Regions from separate parts of the Homo sapiens genome. Here region 2 is linked to region 1. The links come from fine-mapping of genetic effects on gene expression. A gene starts in region 1. The other region holds a variant in brackets. All regions are shown on one strand. Distances are between the middles of the regions. Region 1 holds the start of LBHD1 (LBH domain containing 1). Region 2 overlaps GANAB (glucosidase II alpha subunit).

Evidence for each region. PIP is the estimated chance that this variant, and not a neighbour inherited with it, causes the effect.
Region 2: its variant is the best candidate, but not a certain one, in a credible set for the expression of LBHD1 in whole blood (INTERVAL, PIP 0.79).

What each region holds. Positions count from the first base shown.
Region 1 is chr11:62,670,524-62,673,540 of GRCh38, reverse strand. It overlaps LBHD1 (LBH domain containing 1), which reads left to right and starts at 1,274. Exons shown (of 7, transcript NM_024099.5): 1 at 1,274-1,977. It overlaps UQCC3 (ubiquinol-cytochrome c reductase complex assembly factor 3), which reads right to left and starts at 1,868. Exons shown (of 2, transcript NM_001085372.3): 1 at 1,676-1,868; 2 at 1-1,588. The coding sequence starts at 1,795. The coding sequence ends at 1,427. RefSeq lists a silencer at 1,065-1,194 and enhancers at 1,435-1,594, 961-1,702, 1,703-2,442, 2,443-3,017.
Region 2 is chr11:62,643,994-62,646,493 of GRCh38, reverse strand. The region is part of intron 1 of GANAB (glucosidase II alpha subunit); the gene reads left to right. Among named protein-coding and RNA genes, the nearest start is that of GANAB, 1.4 kb to the left of the region's middle. RefSeq lists enhancers at 400-559, 875-1,682. The variant G/A (reference allele first, on the strand shown) is at 1,022.

The DNA of each region.
Region 1 (3,017 bases):
TTAATCCCCTCAGTGGCAGCTCCAATAAATCCTGACCAGATCCAGAGATTGGGGACCACTTTACATTTCTAAATTAATGTTTTACAATAATCCTCGTAGTTATGACCTTTCATAGAACAGGGCTGAGGTTTGTAACATGCTGGAGTTCAACCAGGATCTGTGACTCAAAGCACACTCCTTTTACTACTAGTAAGTCAGCCTCCTAAGCTTGTTTAACCAGAGGTTAAATAATGGCCACAGAAAGCATTGTGGCATATGTTAAGTGCTAGATGCCCCTCCAATCTCGCTCCAAGGACAGGAGTCCTGAGTGTCCACTATAGGCATCCATTACTTCAAGACTTCCCAGGATAGTTCAGATTTCAAGAATGTCCCACGGTTATCCCTGGAAGTACACTCCAACCTGACACCACATGACCTGTTTTGAAAATGTGGTTGGCCGGGCGCAGTGGCTCACGCCTCTAATCCCAGCACTTTGGGAGGCTGAGACGGGTGAACTGCCTGAGGTCAGGAGTTCGAGATCAGCCTGGCCACATGGTGAAACCCGCCTCTACTAAAACTACTAATATCAGCCGGGCGTGGTTGCGGACGCCTGTAATCCCAGCTACATGGGAGGCTGAGTAAGGAGAACAGCTTGAACCCAGGAGGCAGAGGTTGCAGTGAGCCAAGATTGCGCCACTGCACTCCTGCCTGGGTGACAAGAGCAAGACTCCATCTCAAAAAAAAGAAAAAATGTGGCCGCGGCAGGGCGAGGTGGTTCACGCCTGTAATCCCAGCCCTTTGGGAGGCCGAGGCGGGCGGATCACCTGGGTCTGGAGTTCGAGACCAGTCTAGCCAACATGGTGAACCCTGTCTCAACTAAAAACACAAAAGTTAGCTGGGCTTGGTGGCGCGCACTTGTGATCCCGGCTACTCGGGAAGCTGAGGCAGGAGAATTGCTGGAACCCAGGGGCGGAGGTTGCAGTGAGCCGAGATCGTGCCACTGCACTCCAGCCTGGGTGACATTGACTCCGTCTCAAAAAAAAAAAAAAAAAAAAAATGTGGTCAGATACCTATCGGGATCAGCCTCTTCTGGTGGGGTGGGACAGGCAGCAGCTCCAGGCCGCGCCCCCAGCACCGACCACGCGTCTCTAAGCATTGGTAGGTGTCGACTGCAGGGCTCATTCTGGGTGGAGGAACATGATTTTATTGGTTCTTTCAGTTCACCACATCCGACTCGCGTCTCGGCCCTGGCCCGCCTTGCGGACCTTAAAGCAGTCAGTCCAGGGTTTGGGGGAAACGTGCTCACCCGACGGCAGCTCACAGGACCCCGGAGAGTCCTGGCATGGTATCTCGGTCCGGACTCTCCGCTGGGCCCACGAAGGAGAAAGGCTGCCTCGGATTCCTGCGCCCAAGCCAAGGTCCGGCGCCCACGGAGGCAAGTCCGGTCTCACGGTGACCTCCCGCCGGCGCCGCCTTCGCCGCCAACCATCCAGTTCTTCCTCCAGGCCACGTTCTCCTGCGTGGTCGCTGCCTCCTGCAGAGTGGCCAGCAATAGCTGCTGGGTCCTGGCCGCCTCCTCCCTGCTCCTTGGGTCCTGCAGTGGCATCTCCTGAGGGCAGGAAGGGGAGTTCGCAGGAGCTCCAGTCCGGGGCTCTCCACCCGCCCACCCTTCCTCGGGACTACCAGTTGCTTCTACCTTTAGCATTTCCTGCTTCCGCCGCTCTCCCGGGGTCACGATAACGAGGAGCGCGTAGCCCACGCCAGCCCCTGCGCCCAGCATTGCGACTGAGATCAGCATTTTCCGCAAGGAATCCATGGCCGCCTGCACAGCCAGCGGAGCGCCCACGGGAGCTCCCCGCAGCCGCAAGCTGTTGCCGCGCGGTCTCACTACCCCTTGGCGCAGGCTAGAGCGCCCTATAGCAGAAACCATAGATAAGCGGCCGGCTAGAGAGGACCTGCTCGAGGAAACGTTTGGAATCCGGAGCGCTTGGATCTCAGGTTTAGCTGAGGGGGTTGAGGTGTCCAAGAAGTGCTGGCACCAAGGGCTGAGCGCGGGGACCCTGTGTCCTCAATTCCGGGGTGGGATTGCTAGGGGGAGAGTGCGTGTCTTCATGGTTGCCGTGGGTTTTATGATTGCCCATTTTTCTGTCTTCCGACGTTTCCCGATCAGTAGAGGCCCGAGCTGTGCTCTGTGGTTTCCTGCAGTCACCCGCGCGTTTTCAACACAGCGCATGGAGGGCATCTACACACATACACATCCCTCTCCATCCCCTCAACTCTGGAACAAACACTCAAAGTCAAGTATACTGGTTGGAGAAATGGGTAATAGTTACTTATCTTTAACATTTATTTTACAAACAACCTATTCCTTTTCTCGTCATGGTACACACTTGGTATTGTTTGGGTTTTTTTTTGGTTTTGTTGTTGTTGTTAGTGTGTGGGCGTGGTTTTGTTTGTTTTTGGAGACAAGGTCTCGCTCTGTCGCCCAGGGCTGGAGTGCAGTGGCGCGATCATGGCTCACTGAAGCCTCGACTTCCAGGGCCCAAGCGATCCTCCTGCCTCAACCTCCCGGATAGCTGGGATTACAGGCGTGCACCACCACGCCCGGCTGGTATTGCTTTTTGTTTTGCTTCGTTTTCTTTTTTGCTTTTTGAGACAGAGTCTCACTCTGTTGCCCAGCTGGAGTGCAGTGGCGTGATCTCGGCTCACTGCAAGCTCTGCCTCCCGGGTTCACGCCATTCTCCTGCCTCAGCCTCCCGAGTAGCTGGGACTACAGGCGCCCGCCACCACGGCCGGCTAATTTTTTGTATTTTTAGTAGAGAAAGAGTTTCACTATGTAGGTCAGGCTGGTCTCGAACTCCTGACCTCGTGATCCGCCCAATCCGCCCACCTCGGCCTCCCAAAGTGCTGGGATTACAGGTGTGAGCCACCGCGCCCGGCTGTTTTGCTTTGTTTTCAACCACTAAAAGGCTGGATTCGTGTAACATACTGAATTCTGCTTTACAGAAGAAAACACCTCTTAGCTGTGTGACTGATTA
Region 2 (2,500 bases), 27 kb after region 1:
TCCTGTGTGTCTCTTGACACTCTGCCACCCCCGGCCTCGTGAGGAACCTTTGTTCCTCTGGAGGCGGCCTCAGACGCCTCCGGTCTCCCCGTGGTAGATCCGAGCGACGCTGGGGGCCTTGCCTGTGGGGCTCCGGGCTCCCGCCCGGCGGTTTAGTAAAGCCACAGCTGTGCGTCTTTCTTGGTCTTGGCCGCTCTCAGCCGCCGCCCTCCTTTGGCTGCTTGCGGCGGTCAACGTCGCCGCCCCCTTCCTGCAGTGCGCGGGGTCGTCGGGGCGGGGGAAAAGATGCGGCCTGGCCTCGGGGAATGCAGCCTGCGGCCCCGCGGCCCCTCGGCTGAGCTGGAAGCACCGGGCCAGCAGTTAAGCCTGTACTACCCTTCTGGCTCTACCCTGTAGAGCTCCGAATCCTCCTCTGCCCTTGTCTTCACGTGAGCACCAGCTCTGGCTTAGTTCAGTGTCCACGGTCGCTGGGCACGGCCCAGGGTCCAGTAAGCTCACGGCGTGGATGGTGTTGCTCAAACACAACATGTAATCGAATGGCTTGGTCCACGCTCTCGGGTTTATATTACTGGGGAAAAAAAAAGATTCGAAACATATCACCAGTGCCACAAATGTTTACTAGGACCTAACGGATATACTGGGGTGGGGTAGGCGTGTACTCTCCAAAGCGATGAAGAAAGCGTGGATCATAAACTCAGTTCCCTCGGAGCCTGTGATCTGAAACAATAAATGCGTGCAACTTGCCCTGCAGCTTATTCCTGACTTTGGCCTATGAACACCTCTCTTGGGGTGGTCAAGGCCGCCGTGAATTCCTTAGGGCCCTCCAACAGGTCATATCTGAAAGATGCTTTAGGAATCCTATCTCCATTGGCATCTTTCCGAACCAATTTTACAGACTGTGCAAATAGGGCCCCAGAGGGTATTTAACTCACTGTACGTCTTTTTTTTTTTTTTTTGAGAGACAGAGTCTCGCTCTGTTGCCCAGGCTGGAGTGCAGTGGCGAGATCTCGGCTCACTGCAA[G/A]CTCCGCCTCCTGGGTTCACGCCATTCTCCTGCCTCAGCCTCCCGAGTAGCTGGGACTACAGGCACCCGCCACCACGCCTGGCTATTTTTTTGTATTTTTAGTAGAGACGGGGTTTCACTATGTTGGTGAGGATGATCTCGATCTCTTGACCTCGTGATCCACCCGCCTCGGCCTCCCAAAGTGCTGGGATTACAGGCGTGAGCCACCGCGCCCGGCCTCAACTCACTGTACTTCTATTTACTGCTGCTTTTGGCAGGTGGACGTGGGTCAGTGGCCAAGAGTGCCTGTTGCAGTCACTCAGGTCACTCACTGCAGGACCTGTGCCGCATGCCTTGCTATGGAGTTTTGTGGTAGCATTTATTCTGCTTGGCCTATTAAACCACAGTGCCTAGTGTTTTCTTCATTTTTCTGTCTGGCCTGCTGTGGAACAGTTGTTTCGTACATTCCTCTGGAGCTGGAGGAGAGTCCTGTGATGAGATCATAGTACACTCTGTGATCTCATTTCTGGTAATTTTCTTTTAGCTTTCAAGCAGATGCTGAAGCTAATGCTAGATAACTAGATACAATGTGTATAATAGACCCTGTCTTTAGTTACCTTATTATAGGTTGTCAAATTTTATTTATTTATTTATTTGTTTGTTTACTTATTGAAACAGGGTCTCGCTCTGTTGCCTAGGATGGAGTGCAGGGGTGCAATCTCGGCTTACTCCAGCTTCCACCTCCCGAGTTCAAGCGATTCTCCTGCCTCATCCTCCCGAGTCCTGGGATTACAGACGTGTGCCACCGTGCCCAGCTAATTTTTGTATTTTTAGTAGACACCCCATTGACCAGTCTTAATTAATTTACTTTTTTGAGACAGAGTCTTGTGCTGTGGCCCAGGCTGGAGAGCAGTGGTGCAATCGTAGCTCATGCAGCCTCAAACTCTTGCGTTCAGGCAGTCCTCCGGCTTCAGCCTCCTGATTAGCTGGGACTACAGGCACCTGCCACCATGCCTTGCTACTCTTTTTTTTTTTTAAGTAGAGACGAGGTCTTGCTGTGTTGCCCAATCTTCCCTTTTTGACCTCCCAAAGTGCTAGGATTATAGACGTGAGCCACTGTGCCTGGCTGGTTGTAAAACTTTATTGCTTAGAAGAACCCTCCCACCCCCAGTTTGAAACACTTTCTCAGAGTATGCTCGTATTCTGCCCATATCAGTGTCACTGGGAGAGCATGTTTAAAATGTGGTGTCAGCCGGGCACGATGGCTCACACCTGTAATCCCAGCACTTTGGGAGGCCGAGGCTGGCGAATCACCTGAGGTTGGGAGTTCGAGACCAGCCTGACCAACACAGAGAAACCCCGTCTCTACTAAAAATACAAAATTAGCCGAGTGTGGTGGCACGCGCCTGTAATCCCAGCTACTTGGGAGGCAGAGGCAGGAGAATTGCTTGAACCCGCGAGGCAGAGGTTGCGGTGAGCCAAGATCGTGCCATTGCACTC